3 separate regions of the Homo sapiens genome follow, and all the other regions are linked to region 1. Evidence: fine-mapped expression QTL. A gene starts in region 1. Each other region holds a variant in brackets. All regions are shown on one strand. Distances are between the middles of the regions.

Region 1 (5,659 bases):
TATTTGAGACAGGTGGCAATCAACAGTCAACTCCCAGGGCACACGTTTATCCTGCAGACCTCAAATTCCACCCTCCCCAATCCCCACCTTCTCTGCACCAGATAGAGAAGGCAGCAAGGTCAAGTCCCCATGGCTCTCACCTTTTCTCTCTGGAGAGCTGGCACAAACTGTCCCTTCTGGATGAAGACACCAGCTCCTTAGGAGGAATGACTTGTTTGAGTTCCCATCTTGATACAAACCACAAACAACAAAAACCGGGCAAATCTGAAAGGCTTGCTGACTCAGCGACACAAATTCCAAGGCACCTTTGCCAACGAGGAAGAAGATGATCAGGTTTTAAATTAAGAAACAGCAGTTAGTAAAAACAAAGGTACAGATGTTGGATCCGTGTGCTGTGCCTGGGGACTGAAAATCACCAGATTTATTTTCCAATAGCCTGGGTGGAGCAGGAGGTACAACAGTCTTCCTCCACCCACTTAACAATCAAGGAGATGGTTGAAGAAACAACAAAAAGCAAACAAACAAAAAAACCCTGAGCTCTTTTTAAAATTTTTTATTATTATTAGTTTTTGGAGACGGAGTCTTGCTCTGTCACCCAAGCTGGAGTGCAGTGGCGTGATCTCGGCTCACTGCAGCCTCCGCCTCCCAGGTTCAAGCTACTCTCCTGCCTCAGCTTCCCGAGTAGCTGGGATTATAGGCTCGAGTCACCACGCCTGGCTCTGAGCCCTTTTCTTAAAAAAAAAAAAAAGTTCGTTTTTTTAGTTTGTTTGTTTTTTGTTTTTTGAGACGGGGTCTCCCTCTGTCGCCCATGCTGCAGTGCAGTGGTGTGATCACAGCTCACTGCAGCCTCCAACTCCTGGGCTCAAGCGATCCTCCTGCCTCAGCCTCCCAAGTAGCTGGGACTACAGGCACCCACCAACACGCCCATCTGATTTTTTATAGAGACAGTGATCTCAGGAATCCTCTTCGTTTCCCAGGCTTGTCTCAAATTCCTGGACTCAAATGATCCTTCCACCTCGGCCTCCCAAAGGGCTGGGATTACAGGCATGAGCCACCGTGCCTGGCCTGAGCCCTTTTACAGAAAACTCTAAAAGGACTTCATAAGCCAGTCTGGCAGCTAAGCATCCAGGAAATCAACACACCAGAGAGGGTAAATATTTAAGGTCACAGAGCAACCGAATCAGAGGGCTTGCTATCCGGATGGCTTAAGCCCGGATGGTGGCTACCAGAAAGTCTACCTTCTAGAGCGCTAGAGGAGCTAGGAAGGCATGCAGAAATATTCTGAGTTTCTCAAGGGTCCAGGCGTCTGTACACATGCTATTTATTTCCATCGCTGTTGGCGCTTAGAGAAGTGGAGCCAGCTTGGAGGAGGAGGGCAGCTGGCTGAGACAGTCGCGATGAAAGCGCAGCTCCAGAAAAGGGAACCGAGTTCTAAATCTTTTTCGGCACCCCTTACGCACCCCAAAAAGTGACCCAGGGCCCCAGGAACTCCTGGGAAGACCCCCCACAGGAAAGCAGGGAAGCAGAGTTAGGAAGCAAACTCCTCCAAAGTACAACCCCCGGCCCAGTGAGTCCCTTCACCTGGGGGTAGACCCCAGCAGGACCAACCCCTCGTCAGGGAGCCGGTGGCAATCTCGTCACCCCCTCCTCTGGGTACTTTGGGAAGGGGTGCGCGCCTTCCGAGCGACCCGGAACCGCGCCCCTCCGCCTGCGAGCCCCTCAGCCTTCATCCGAACGTCCCCTTTCGCACCCGGCACCCTGTCCCGTCCAAAGCTGCCGGCGCCTCCCAAGTCCCCCAACTCTCGCCCTCAGGACCTTGATCCCGGAGACCGATCCCCCCGACACCCCCGATCTCCCGGGACCCCCGGGTGTCCCCGCCGCCCCGGCCGTCGGTCCCCCTCACACCCACGCCCGCCCCCTTCCGGTCCCAGCTAGGCTCCGGCTCCCCGCGCCACCCCGCGCCCCTGGGACCGCAGCCCTAGCGACGCGCAGGTGGCCTTCCCGCCCTCTCACCGAGGCTGAGGAGGACAAGAGGACGGGGCTGAGGGCACCACCGCGCTCGGGCTGCAGCTCCGGCTCGGCCTGGGCAGGGCTCTGGCTGTGGCTCCGACTCTCAGGAGAAGGCAGCCAGAGTGAAACTCGGCGTCGCAGCTTCCGAGCGAGCCGCTGCGCATGCCCGGGGCGTGCGGCCTTCTGGGAAATGTAGTCCCGGTAGGGCCCAGGGGCGGGCAGAAGGCGGGGCTCAGCGGGGAAGGGCTCAACCCAAGGCGCACCTGCTCCGGTCTATGTTTTCTTCCTTCGCCTGCTCACTCATTGACTTATTCCTTCATTAATTACTGACTTAATTTTAACTAGTTTTTACTAGTACATACATGGTGCCAGTACATACATGTGCTACTGTTTCTCTTTTTTTGTTTTTAAAATTAATTTTATTTTTCTTTTTTGTACAGATGGGGGTTTTGCAATGCTGCAACGTTGCTCAGGCCGATCTCAAACTCCTGGCCTCAAGCGATCCTCTTGCTTCATTCAGCCTCCCAAAGCACTGGGGTTGCAAGTGTGAGCCATCGAGCACAACCTTTTTAAATTTAAATTTTTGTCTTTTTCTTTTCTTTTTTTCTCTCTTTCTTTCCTATTTATTTTTAATATTTATTTATTTATTTAGCTACTGTGTAGTGGGAGTGCGGGAGTGAATAGGTGAATCAGAAATGGTTTCTTGGCTGGGCGCAGTGGCTCATGCCTGTAATCCCTGCACTTTGAGAGGCAGAGGTGGGCGGATCACCTGAGGTCGGGAGTTCCAGACCAGCCTGGCCATCATGGCGAAACCCCGTCTCTACTAAAAATACCAAAAAAAACTAGCCGGGCGTGGTGGCTCGTGCCTGTAATCCCAGCTACTCGGGAGGCTGAGGCAAGAGAATCGCTTGAACCCGGGAGGCAGAGGCTGTAGTGAGCCAAGATCGCGCCATTGCACTCCAGCCTGGGCGACGGAACAGGAATCCCTCTCAAAAGAAAAAAAAAAAAAGACGAAGAAGAAGAAAAAAGAAAAAGAAAAGGTTTCTCGCCGGGAGCGGTGGCTCACGCCTGTAATCCCAGCACTTTGGGAGGCCGAGGCAGCCAGATCACAAGGTCAAGAGATTGAGACCATCCTGGCCAACATGGTGAAACCCCGTCTCTACTAAAAATACAAAAATTAACTGGGTGTGGAGGCCGGGCGCAGTGGCTCACGCCTGTAATCCCAGCACTCTGGGAGGCCGAGGCGGGCGGATCACGAGGGCAGGAGATCGAGACCACGGTGAAACCCCGTCTCTACTAAAAATACAAAAAAAAAAAAAAATTAAGCGGGCGTAGTGGTGGGCTCCTGTAGTCCCAGCTACTCGGGAGGCTGAGGCAGGAGAATGGCGTGAACCCGGGAGGCGGAGCTTGCAGTGAGCCGAGATTGTGCCACTGCACTCCAGCCTGGGTGACAGAGCGAGACTCCGTCTCAAAAAAAAAAAAAAATAATAATAATAATAATAATTAACTGGGTGTGGTGGCGCGTGCCTGTAATCCCAGCTACTTGGAAGACTGAGGCAAGAGAATCACTTGAACCCTGGAGGTGGAGGTTGCACTGAGCCAAGATTGTGCCACTGCACTCCAGCCTGGACGACACAGTGGGAATCTGTCTCAAAAAAAAAAAAAAAAAAAAGAAAGAAAAGAAAAGAAAAGAAAGAAAGAAGAAAAGAAAAGGATTTCTTTCCTGGGAAAGCTTTGTATCTAGTTGGAAAGTCCGGCACTTAAACACACAATTACGATATAGTGGGGAAAATGTTTGGATAAAGGAGGGCATAGAAGGGTATGCCTAACTTGAGGGTGGGGAGAAGACATCACAAGACAGATAAAGGCTATGTGGGTTTTTCAGTCCATAGAGAAATTTGCCAGTTGGAGCATAGGGAAGCTCTTGTAAAGCAAGAGAGATGTGAAAGTGCCTCATGCACTCCGGAGGCAGCACAAAGTTCCTGGTGGCCAGGGCAGAGGACACATGGAGGGAAGGGAGTGAGGAAGGAGAAAATGCACTAGGCTATAGCAGGATCTGAGGAGTGTGGGGAGAAGCCGGGGTAAGATTATGATGAATTTTAGATAATGTGAGTGTTTGCACATGTGTGCACATACTATGTATGTTGAATATTATGTATACAGTTTCAGGGGGATCAAGGTCCTCTGAATCTTGGAGGACCAAGTACCCAGTTAAAGATACTTACCTGGAATGACATTATCCTAAGGTCATTGATCCTTTATCAGGGATTTTTATTTTCCTTTTTTTTTTTTTTGAGACGAGTTTTGCTCTTGTTGTCCAGGCTGGAGTGAAATGGCACAATCTCGGCTCACTGCAACCTCCGCCTCCCAGGTTCAAGTGATTCTCCTGCCTCACCTCCCGAGTAGCTGGGATTACAGGCATGCACCACCACACTCAGCTAATTTTTGTATATATATATATTTTTGAGACGGAGTCTTGCTCTGTCGCCCAGGCTGGAGTGCAATGGCACAATCTCAGCTCACTGCAAACTCCGCCTCCCAGGTTCAAGCAATTCTTCCTCAGCCTGCCGAGTAACTGTGATTACAGGCGGATGCCACCATGCCCAGCTAATTTTTGTATTTTAGTAGAGACAGGGTTTCACCATGTTGGCCAGGCTGGTCTTGAACTCCTGACCTCGTGATCTGCCCACCTCGGTCTCCCAAAGTACTGGGATTACAGATGTGAGCCACCGCATCCGGGCTAATTTTTGTATTTTTAGTAGAGACAGAGTTTCACCATGTCAGCCAGGCTGATCTCAAACTCCTGACCTCAGGTAATCTGCCCACTGCAGCCTTCCAAAGTGCTGGGATTACAGGTGAGGGCCACCGCATCCGGCCAGAGTTCCATTTTTAAAATCTGAAAAGACGGACTATTTTTATTTGGGAAAAATAAAGAGTTCTGGTTGTGAAAAGAAGTAAAATAGGACAGTATCAAGAGGGAGAGTGGGGGGCATGGACTTTTGTATTTTAGACAGGAGAGAGAAGAGTGTGCTGACTTCTGAAATTGCAGCAGGATGTCTGCCCCCTGGGAACCTGGAAATGAGGGAAACAGGCTTGGCCACTTGCAAAGTGAACTTTAAACTAATATACGTAGCAAAGGGCCAGAGACAAAAGAACTGCCTGGTAGGAGGGGGCTGGTTAAATAACCCCGGAACACTAGGTAGCCCTAGAAGGAATGAGGAAGACTCACAGTGGCCTAGATCTATTGTTAAACCAAAAAGGAACTTTGAGCCAGGCAAGGCGGCTCATGCCTATAATCCCAGCACTTTGGGAGGCGGAGGCAGGTGGATCACCTGAGATCAGGAGTTCAAGACCAGTCTGGCCAACATGGTGAAACCTCGTCTCTACTAAAAATACAAAAATTAGCTGGGTGCAGCGGTGCACACCTGTAATCCACCTACTCGGGAGGCTGAGGCAGGAGAATCGCTTGAATCTGGGAGGCAGAGGGTGTAGTGAGCCAAAATTGCACCATTGCACTAGCCTGGGTGACAGACTGAGACTCGGTCTGAAAAAAAGAAAAAAAAGGAACGTTCAAAATAGAGGGTAGAGAATATGAGAATATGCACCCATTTGTGTTTTTTAAACAATTGCATACAATAAACGGGCTTAC
Region 2 (5,659 bases), 36 kb after region 1:
CTTGCTCTGTCACCCAGGCTGGAGTGCAGTGGCACGAACTCGGCTCACTGCAACCTCCGCCTCCCAGGTTCAAGCAATTCTCTGCTTCAGCCTCTGAGTAGCTGGAATTACAGGCACGTGCCACCGTGCCTTTTTTTTTTTTTTTTAAATAGAGACAGGGTTTCGCCATGTTAGCCAGGCTGGTCTCGAACTCCTGGCCTCAGGTGATCCACCTGCCTCAGCCTCCCAAAGTGCTGGATTACAGGTGTGAGCCACCATGACTCAACCCCCAACCACCTATTCTAAGCTCACTATCCCCACCTCTCATCTCAGGGAGCTTATTTAAAAACTACTTGAGGGCTGGGTGCAGTGGCTCATGCCTGTAATCCCAGCACTTTGGGAGGGAAGAGGATTGCTTGAGGCCAGGAAGTCACGACCAGCCTGGGCAATAGAGCTAGACCCCATCTCTACAAAAACATAACTTGGCTGGGCACGGTGGCATGTGCCTGTAGTCCATCCCAGCTATTCAGGAGGCTGAGGCAGGAGGATGGCTTGAGCCTAGGAGGTCGAAGTTGCCCAAGAGCTCAGGTGGCTGCCTGGCCCTGACCAAACTCGATCTTCAGGGAATAGTCCTAGACCTTATTAGCAAGTGCCCCAGCACAGACAGAACCAGCATAGCTCGTGGGGCCCCTTATTCAAAAGTTATTACCATTTCAGGGCAAGAGGGCATTCCATTAAGCACTGGGCCCCACAGAACTGCACAGGTTGTATACCTGGGAAACTGGCCATGGCTGTATTTTTTTTTTTTTTTTTTTTGAGACGGAGTCTCACTCTGTTGCCCAGGCTGGAGTGCAGTGGCACGATCTCAACTCACTGCAACCTACGCCTCCCGGGTTCAAGCAATTCTCTGCCTCAGACTCCTGAGTAGCTGGGATTACAGGTGCCCGCCACCACACCCGGCTAACTTCTTTGTATTTTTAGTAGAGATGAGGTTTCACCATCGTGGCCAGGCTGGTCTTGAACTCCTGACCTCGTGATTCACCCGCCTCGGCCTCCCAAAGTGCTGGGATTACAGGCGTGAGCCACTGCGCACGGCCAGCCGCAGGTGATTCTCACCGGGCAAAACTGGGAAACACCACACCAGAGGAAGGAGTTTGCAGGCTTTGCTCCTCATTGGAGTCACCTGAGATCCTTATTACCCACAGCTGGTCCCACATCCTTTCTATTTTAGCAGCCTGGACATCAGGATTTTTAGAAGCTCCACAGGTGGGGTTAATAAAAGAGGGTCTTGCTCTGCCTTCCAGGCTGGAATGCAGTGGCACAATCGTAGCTCACTGCAGCCTCCAAATCATGGGTTTAAGCAATCCTCCCACTTCAGCCTCCCAAGTAGCTGAGACTAAAGGCAGGCGCCACCACACCCTATTGTGTGTGTGTGTGTGTGTGTGTGTGTGTGTGTGGTGTTTGGTAGAGAAGGGGGTCTCATTATGTTGCCCAGGGTGGCCTTAAACTCCCGGGCCCAAGTGATCCTCCCATCTCAGCCTCCCAAAGTGCTGGGATTATAGGCGCCATTGCACTCCAGCCTGGGCAATAAGAGCAAAACTGTCTCAAAAAACAAAAACAACAACAAAAAAATACCACTTATCAGCTTCTAACCTATTAAAGCCCATTTCACAGAAGGGGGGGGAGCCAGGCACCTGGCTCCCCAAGTAAATCTAAGACATGTTTGTGAGCCTCTAAACTGGAATAATTCCTCAAGTAACTCCTGCAGCTCTCTGGCCTCCCTCCCCAGGAAAACAAGGGCCTCGAGTCCTCAAAGAGAGCCCAGGAGACCACAGTTAAGACCAGAGCTCTGGCCGGAGGGCTCCAGGGGCTGGACTTGCCCCCATCCCAGGCAAGCTACTGGGTCTAGGCCCAGGTGAGGAGGAGCCAGGTTCCCCTGAGGCGGGAGAGGACAGGCCCTCCATGGGACCACAGGAACTTGGTCCAGGGATCAGGGTTTAGCTGGGGAGCTGTGTGCCCAGCCCTGCCCTGCCGTAAGGCCTCTCCTTGCAGCCTCTTTCCCCACTGGCTAGGGAAAGGGAGGTCTGGCCTGGATTTCTTGGTCTTTTCCTGCATGTACCACAGGTTAAGCCTCTCCCCCTTGGAGCTGCCCCCAGGGACCCACTGATGCTTTTAAGGTCTTTAACACCAAGGTTATGATGCCCCCGCCCCCATACCACTTATCTATGTGGAATTTTTTTTTTTTTTTTGAGCCAGAGTCTCGCTCTGTTGCCTAGGCTGGAGTGCAGTGGCACAATCTCAGCTCACTGCAACCTTTGCCTCCTGGGTTCAAGCGATTCTCCTGCCTCAGCCTCCTGAGTAGCTGGGATTACAGACACGCACCACCATGCCTGGCTAATTTTTGTATTATTAGTAGAGATGGGGTTTCACCATGTTGGCCAGGCTGGTCTCAAACTCCTCAGCCTCCCAAAGTGCTGGAATTACAGGCGTGAGCCACCACACCAGGCCCCAGTTAGTTTTTTTAAAGGCTTAAGAGATGGGGTCTCACTATGTTGCCCAGGCTGGCCTCAAACTCCTGGCCTCAAGTGATCCTCCAGTCTTGGCCTCCCATAGTGCTGGGACTACAGGCATGAGCCACTGCACCCGGCCCACTTGTTGTTTTTAAGATAATGTATACTTTGGGTCTCTTCAGGATGAGTTCCTAATGCCCCCAGCCTTAGAAACAGCCCCTTAGGCTACCCACAGGGCTATCCTATCAC[G/C]CAGGCCTGTGTGTGTCACAAACCCACCTGAGAGAGAGTGGCGTGGCTTGGGCCAGCCTGAAGTGCACGGCCACCTCTGGCTCCACCCCATCGACCCAATGTCGGGCATCAGAGGCAGGAGCTGCCCTGGGTCCGGTGACCTCAGTGCCAGCTTCAGGCCTCAACTGGGCCACCTCCCCACCTACAAGTGAGAGGGATCCACCCAACCCCACCTCCCACCGATGGTGGCCACAGTCCCCATACCCGGCTGCCTCGAACATCCTCCCACCAAAGCCAGGGCCCCCAGCCTCTCTTACCTGCATGCTGTTGCCACACTCGTGGAGTCCAACCTCAAACCTGACCACATCTTCTGTGTCCATGGAGACCAGAGGCTCACAGGCCTCTGGGCCCAAGGTGAGGTCAGCAGCCCTGATGAGCTTCCCGGTGCCAAAAAGGTCTTTGCTGACCATGACCATCAGAGTGGCCTCCTGACACTCCACCAGTACGGGCTGTACGGACGTCTCAGGATGGCTGGCTCCACCCTGCAAGAGCCAGAGGGGTTGGGGGTAGCACAGCTCAGTACTACCCCAGAGCAGGAGGCAGATGAAGAGCCTATAGCTCAGCTCCATGGTACCTGCAGAGCAGCAGGCAGCCGCCTCTGGCCATCTTATACCCGTGGGATGCTGGCTGCTGCCACCTGGGCTCTCAGCTTCTCAGCTGCCTCCCTTCCCTAGCCAGCTGGGCCCTTGTTGCATAAAGTGGTCTCCATCCAGAAGCATCAGTAACACCTGGGAGCTTGTTAGAACTGCAAACTCTCAGCCTTCACCCCAGCATGACCACAGCAGAATTTGGTTTTTAGCTTGGAAATCCCCCACGTGTATCCACATTAAAGTTTTTTTTTGCTGTGTGTGTGTGTGTTTGTGGTTTGTTTGTTTTTGTTGTGTTTTGTTTTGTTTTGAGACAGAGTCTCACTCTGTTGTCCAGGCTGGAGTGCAGTGGTATGATCTCGTTTCACTGCATCCTCCACTTCTCAGCCAGGTTCAAGTGATTCTCCTGCCTCAGACTCCCAAATAGCTGGGATTACAGGAAGGCATGCGCCACCGCGCCTGGCTAATTTTTGTATTTTTGGTAGAGACAGGGTTTCACTATGTTGGGCAGGCTGGTCTTGAAGTCCTGACCTCCAGTGATCCTCCTGCCTCAGCCTCCCAAAGTGCTGGGATGACAGGTGTGAGCCACCGCGCCCGCCCCAGCCCACTTGAAAGTTTTTAGCTTGTAAATCCCCATGTGTATTCATGTAAAAGTTTGCAAAGAGTGTGCTGCCTGCCTGGTGCACCACAATGTATCACAGCTTCCCTCCGATCCCCTGCTGGCCCTGCCCTTAGGAAGCTCGCAGCCCGGCAAGGGAGCTGTCCCAGGTCTGTGGGGGACACAGGAGAAAGCCCTTGATTGAAGAGTCAGGGGGATTAGATCTGAGACATAAGGAGCTCATTCCAAGTGTGAGAAAAAGGAGGCGGTATCAATTAGGAGACAGGAGGAATTTCATGGGTCTCTGCCTTATTTTATGGGAGGCCGGGGGGTAGGTCAGTTCAGGCAGAGGCAGCTGTGTGAAGAGAGGTGGAGAAGGGGCCCTGCGTTCTTCATTCCTGGGTGAATCCCCCGGAGTTCATACTGAGACACAGCAGAAGCGGGGCTTGGCTTCAGCTCACCCCGACCAGGGCATTCTTTTTTTTTTTTGAGACAATCTCACTCTGTTGCCCAGGCTGGAGTGTAGTGGTGCAATCTCAGCTCACTGCAGCCTCCGCCTCCCAGGTTCAAGCAATTCTTCTGCCTTACTCTCCCGAGTAACTGGGATTACAGGCTTGTTCCACCATGCCCAGCTCCTCACCACAAGGGATCCGCCCACCTCAGTCTCCCAAAGTGCTGGGATTACAGACATGAGCCACCACACCTGGCCCAACCACTGCATTCTTTCCTGCATTCCCAGTGATCACCAGACCCATACCACGATTTCACTGACATCATCATGTGGAAACATGCCTATTACTTAAGAGAATCCCAGGAACTGACCTTAGGAGATTCAAATATCAAACCAAGGTTGTGGAGTGTCCCACCTCAGGAAGGAATGCTGAACTGATTGACAGCCTTGTTGCCACCAGCCAGACTACCAGGTGGCCCATAACTCAAGATAACCATGGCAACCAGATAATGCCAACCTGCATACCTTCACGTGCTTTGCCCAGCACAGCCGGCATGCCCTATCCCTGATGTAAATTCCCATGCTTTGCCTAATAAAAAAGCCCTCCTGGCTCTTTTTGGAGAGTCAGATAGAAAAATCTCTATATCTTTCCCTCTCTCTCTCTCTTTCCCTCTCTCTCTCTCTTTCCCTCTCTCTCCCTCTCTCTTTCCCTCTCTCTCCCTCTCTCTCTCATGCTGCCTCCTTTATGTCTGGGCATAAGCTCCAATGAAGCTTTGTCTAGGAAAACTCGTTTAGCCTCCTGTCAATTTCTTTTCTTTCTTTCTTTCTTTCTTTCTTTCTTTCTTTCTTTCTTTCTTTCTTTCTTTCTTTCTCTCTCTCTCTCTCTCTCTTTCTTTCTTTTGAGACAGGATCTCATTCTGTCGCCCAGGCTGGAGTGCAGTGGTGCTATCTCGACTCACTGCAACCTCCGCCTCCTGGGTTCAAGTGATTCTCCACCTCAGCCTCCCGAGTAGCTGGGATTACAGGCACCCGTCACCATGCCCGGCTAACTTTTGTATTTTTAGTAAAGACGGGGTTTCACCATGTTGGCCAGGCTGGTCTCGAACTCTGGACCTCAAGTGATTCTCCCTCCTCGGCCTCCCAAAGTGCTGGGATTACAGGTGTGAGCCACTGTGCCTGGCCCTCATGTTAATTTCTTTTCTTTCTTTTTTTTTTTTTTGAGACGGAATCTTGCTCTGTCGCCCAG
Region 3 (5,659 bases), 29 kb after region 1:
TTCTAGGCTTCACTAGACCACCTGAATCAAACCCTGGGTTGGGGCCCAGTCATCAATTTCAACAAGCCCTCCAGCTGAGGATGATGCCTTCAGAATCACTAGCCTAACCTATGACCAAGTTCAAGAAGCCACCCTGGCTACGAAGTTCACACTGGTTTTCTTTGCCCCTGCAGAAAGCCTCCAGGAAGGCTAACACCTGCCTTTTTTTTTTTTTTTGGAGATGGAGTCTCACTGTCACTCAGGCTGGAGGTGCAGTGGCACAATCTCTGCTCACTGCAACCTCTGCCTCCCAGGTTCAAGCTATTCTCCTGCTTCAGCCTCCCAGGTAGCTGGGATTACAGGTACCCAACCACCACACTCAGCTAATTTTTTTTGTATATTTAGTAGAGTCGGGGTTTTACTATGTTGGCCAGGCTGGTCTTGAACTCCTGACCTCAAGTGATCCACCCCCCTCGGCCTCCCAAAGTATTGGGATTACAAGCATGAGCCACCGTGCCCGGCCTCTACCTCTTAAGGCTTCATATTGTTCATCCTTCTGCTTGAAGGCCTCGCTAAAGCTCATGGCTTTACTTGTAAGTTTGAGTTACTGGGACACAGCTCTAAGTCATTTGCTTAGGGGTGGAGCTAGTGAGTGACCCCATTCAGTAGGATATGAAGGTTGCAAGTTCAGCCTTCTTTCAGGCTGTTAAAGCTCTTACCATGTTTCTGGAGTCATTAGCAAAGTGGAAGACATCCACTGTGAACTGGAGTGTATCTGGCCCGGGTCGAGGAACTTTGAATGCAGAAGAGGCATCAGTGAGACCGTCGACAAGACAGCTTGGAAGAAAACAGAACGGTATTAAAGCCAGACAGGTGGGCCGGGCACCGTGGCTCACGCCCATAATCCCAGCACTTTGGGAGGCCAAGGTGGGTGGATCACTTGAGGTCAGGAGTTCGAGACTAGCCTGGCAAACATGGTGAAACCTTGTCTCTACTAAAAATACAAAAATTAGCCAGGCATGGTGATGGGCACCTGTAATCTCAGCTACTTGGGGGGCTGAGGCAGGAGAATCACTTAAACCTGGGAGGCAGAGGTTGCAGAGGGCAGAGATCAAGCCTCTGTATTCCAGCCTGGGTTACAGAGTGACACTGTCTCAAAAAGCCAAACAGGTGGCTTTAGGGTCATTTTGCTAGGAAGGTTCTCTAGGCAGGGAGCCCAGTGCTCACCCATGGAAGTCCACGATGGTGTGATAAGGGGAGGCATTCTGGTCTGGTGTCGGTGTGGCCACGCAGTGGTCCACAAACAACCGCAGTGGCACGTGGCTGCCAGTGTGGATTTCTGCCTGGAGGTGGGCTGCATCTCCCAGGTGGAAGGTGGGGGACCTCTTCTCAGCGTTCCAGTTCTCTGAAAGACACAGTCAGCTGGGCATGGTGGCTCATGCCTGTAATCCCAGCACCTTGGGAGGCTGAGGCAGGTGGATCACCTGAGGTCAGGAGTTCGAGACCAGCCTAGCCAACGTGGCAAAACCCCATCTCTACTAAAAATAGAAAAGTTAGCTGGGTGTGGTGTCAGAAGCCTGTAGTCCCAGTTACTCGGGAGGCTGAGGCAGGAGAATCGTTTGAACCCCAGGAGGTGGAGACTGCAGTGAGCTGAGATCGTGCCACTGCACTCCAGCCTGGAGGTCAGATCAAGACTGTCTCAAAAACCAACCAAAACCAACCAAAACCAACCAAAACCAACCAAAACCAAAACCAAACAAACAAAAAAAAGACACAGCCAAGGGCAGGGGTCTGAGATGGCCCAGGTCTTTCCACAGATGTCCCACCCAGCCTTCTTCTCTTACCCTCCATCAGACGCAGAGAGAAAGTCAGCTTCTCCTCTGAGAACACCGTGGTCCTGAAGGGCAACCAGGTGGGCAGGATGGCCTGGCTGCTCACATTGCCCTGCCTGAGAGAAGAACAGCAGCTGTGCACACCTGCCTCAGGTCACACCCACCTGGGCCCCCACTGATGGGGAGTATCTCACTGCTACCCCACTACAGGGTCCTCAGCTATGGCCCAGCCAGGTAGCTGGTGCGAGATGGCTGAACAGACACCTTGAGCCTGAGGCTGCCCCTGCACCCTCCTGAACTTCTGCACCTGTGAGTGGCCTAGCCATCCTAACTGATGCTATGATGCTATCTGGGCCGCTGAAGACAGATACAGCTGAACCTAGGAGTTTGGTTTCTAGACTGAGATCTGCTCCCTCTTGAGCCCTGGACCTGAGTGCGGTGGCTCATGCCTGTAATCCCAGCACTTTGGGAGGTGGAGACTGGAGGATTGCCTGAGGCTAGGAGTTTGAGAGCAGCCTGGACAACATAGCAAGACTCTATCTCTATAAAAAAGAAAAGAGGCCAGGCAC[G/A]GTGGCTCAAGCCTATAATCCCAGCAGTTTGAGAGGCCGAGGCGGGCGGATCATGAGGTCAGGAGATCGAGACCATCCTGGCTAACATGGTGAAACCCCATCTCCACTAAAAATAAAATTATCCGGGCATGGTGGCGGGCGCCTTTAGTCCCAGCTACTTGGGAGGCTGAGGCAGGAGAATGGCGTGAACCTCGGAGGTGGAGTTTGCAGTGAGCTGAGATCACACCACTGCACTCCAGCCTGGGCAACAGAGCAAGACTCCATCTCAAAAAAAAAAGAAAAGAAAAGAAAAGATAGCTGGGCATAGTAGTACATACCAGCTACTCAGGAGGCTGAGATGGGAGGATTGCTTGAGCCCAGGAGGTCAAGGCTGCAGTGAACTATGATGGCACCCCACTGCACTCCAGCCTGGGCGGCAGAGTAAGACTTTTTTTTTTTAAACAAAAAACCAAAAGCCACCACACATACTTTAGCCCTAGAGGTTCAGGTTTGGGGTCTGATAGCAGGCCCTGCACAGTACTCCACAGGATGCTTGAGAGGGGAATCAGCTAAGGCCATCTTTTTTTTTTTTTTTTGAGACGGAGTCTCACTTTGTCTCCCAGGCTGGAGTACAGTGGCACGATCTCGGCTCACTGCAAGCTCCACCACCCAGGTTCACGCCATTCTCCTGCCTCAGCCTCCCAAATAGCTGGGACTACAGGCACCCGCCACTAGGCCTGGCTAATTTTTTGTATTTTTAGTAGAGACGGGGTTTCACCACGTTAGCCAGGATGGTCTCCATCTCCTGACCTCATGATCCGCCCGCCTCGGCCTCCCAAAGTGCTGGGATTATAGGCGTGAGCCACCATGCCCAGCCAAGGCCATCCTTTAGAGATCAAAGACAGGCCCTTAGGTCTTGAGATGCTACCGAGAGCCTGGACCCACACCAGTGACTGGGAAGTCCATGGAAGCAGGTCTGGGTATCTGCAGATACCTACCCTGCTAACCCCATAGGATCTGCTGGAAGAAGCTACTCCAAGTGATGGATGCATCTATTGATAACCAGACTCAGGTATCTGGAGCCAGGTTAAAGCATCCCAGCCTACAACCAGCCTCTCTAATACTACCTACAGCCAATGGACCAGGTGAGCCACCATCCTCAGGGGTCAGGCCCAGAGACTGAAGTCAGACTTCCACGGTCACAGGACAGCTTCAGTCCCTCATGCCGACTGGGCAGCCTGCCCTTGACTCCTCTATCCTCCTCCATCTCCCCTACCCACATAGGCACCAAGCTCCTCCAACTGCTCTTAGCTCCTGCGAGTCAGCCTCTACGGTCCCTGCAACCATGGGTCAGGCCTCATTGAATCCCAGTTTTCCAGCCTCCCAGCTGGTTCTCACTAGTTCCCATTTGTCTTCAGCACCAGCCACCAGGTGACCCTGGGTGGAGATTCAGTCCTCACCCATTCCAGGAGGGGCACCTGTGGTGAGGCTGGTGAGCCCATCTGTCTGGCTCCCTCATTACCCCAGTCCCTGGGCTCCAGCCCCCAGGCTGCATGTCACCTACTAAGGGCACACTACCCTCCCGTTGGGTGTGTGGCCACATGGCTCTGCCCAGGCCATCTCAGCCTCAAGGTCCCCCACTCCAGGATCCTGTTCTAGGATAACCCCTACCATGACCCCTCCCAGGGGCATGGCTCATCCCTCATGATGTCCTGACTGGTATCAGCTCCCTACCCACTTCACACTAGCATTTTCTTTTTGAGATGGAGTCTTGCTCTGTTGCCCAGGCTGGAGTGCAATGGTGCCATCTCAGCTCACTGCAACCTCTGCATCCTGGGTTCAAATGATTCTCCTGCCTCAGCCTCCTGAGTAGCTGAGATTACAGGCACGCGCTACCACACTCGGCTAATTTTTTTGTGTTTTTAGTAGAGATGGGTTTCACCATGTTGGCCAGGCTGGTCCTGAACTCCTTACCTCGTGAGCTGCCCACCTTGGCCTCCCAAAGGGCTGGTATTACAGGCGTGAGCCACCATACCTGGCCGCATCATCTTATACCCACTCCCAGACTGGTTCAAGGGCAGGGACAAAGTCCCCTGCACCCCATGCTGAGGCCAGCACAGGACCCAGTGTTGTCCTTGGGAGCCATAGTTTCTCCTCCCACTTCAGGGCCTGAGTTCACAGGCACGTGCTTGATGCCAGGGGCTTGAGGACCACAGAAGAGTAGGCCACCACCGCCCAGGTCAGATTCTAGAACGCAGCCTAGCACTATTTTATTATTATTTTTTGCGATGGAGTATCGCTTTGTTGCCCAGAATGGAGTACAGCAGTGCAATCTCGGCTCACTGCAGCCTCTGCCTCCTGGGTTCAAGCAATTCTCCTGCCTCAGCCTCCCAAGTAGCTGGGATTATAGACACCCGGCTAATTTCTGTGTTTTTAGTAGAGATGGGGTTTCACCATGTAGGCCAGACTGGTCTTGAACTCCTTGACCTCAAGCGATCCACCTGTCAGCCTCCCAAAGTGCTAGGATTACAGGATGAGCCACTGCACCTGGCCCCAGCCTAGCACTATTGGAAGGCCATTTCTGAACCCTAAGGGCCGAGGCTGGCATAGTACCACCACCAGGGCTGAGCAGCTCTGAAGCTTCCGCTAAGCTGCAGTTGGGCTCCTGATACTCTTCTGGGGCTCGAACTAGACTCAGCAGGCCCCACAATCCCACGCAGTACAGTAACCACAGCTGCAAATGCTTCGGTAGGTAGTTCTAATAGCCATGCTGCAAGCTGTAGCCCATAGCCAGCCCACTTGCCTGCAGCCACACCCAAGGGGCTTTTGCACCAGGGGCCATGAGTCAGTCCCACACCGACCTGGGGTAGCGGCACTCGATGGGAATCTCTGCGCGGTTAGTCCTCACGATGGACAGGTTTCCCACGGGGCGGGGGTCATGGAGCAGGAAGGTGCTGTACACCAGGGCATCGTCAGTTACCTGGAGGAAAGGTGAGAAGTTAATGCTGCCGGCCATCACCTGCCCGGGTACTCCCAAGCCATACCTGAGTGCTCAGGGAGGGCAGCCCACAAGGGGACAGAAAGACCACAGGGTCAAGGCCAGGTGCAGTGACTCATGCCTGTAACCCCAGCACTTTGGGAGGCCAAGGATTGCTTGAGGCCAGGAGTTTGAGACTGGCCTGGGAAACATAGCAAGACCCCATCTCTACAAAAGAGAACACAGGCTCTGCCACTGGTCAGGAAAGAGGCAGGACAGGTACTGTCTTTGTACCTCGGAATCTTTACCTGACACCACATATT

Evidence for each region.
Region 2: its variant is fine-mapped to the expression of DTX2 in T cells (TOPMed, PIP above 0.99).
Region 3: its variant is fine-mapped to the expression of DTX2 in whole blood (TOPMed, PIP above 0.99).

Annotation. Positions count from the first base shown.
Region 1 is chr7:76,458,191-76,463,849 of GRCh38, reverse strand. DTX2 (deltex E3 ubiquitin ligase 2) reads right to left here and starts at 2,141. Exons shown (of 11, transcript NM_001102594.3): 1 at 2,014-2,141; 2 at 141-305.
Region 2 is chr7:76,422,652-76,428,310 of GRCh38, reverse strand. ZP3 (zona pellucida glycoprotein 3) reads right to left here and starts at 3,361. Exons shown (of 8, transcript NM_001110354.2): 1 at 3,035-3,361. The coding sequence starts at 3,346. RefSeq lists a silencer at 3,965-4,259. The variant G/C (reference allele first, on the strand shown) is at 2,739.
Region 3 is chr7:76,429,195-76,434,853 of GRCh38, reverse strand. ZP3 (zona pellucida glycoprotein 3) reads right to left here. Exons shown (of 8, transcript NM_001110354.2): 2 at 5,221-5,339; 3 at 1,824-1,927; 4 at 1,207-1,384; 5 at 699-816. Among named protein-coding and RNA genes, the nearest start is that of ZP3, 7.1 kb to the right of the region's middle. The variant G/A (reference allele first, on the strand shown) is at 2,381.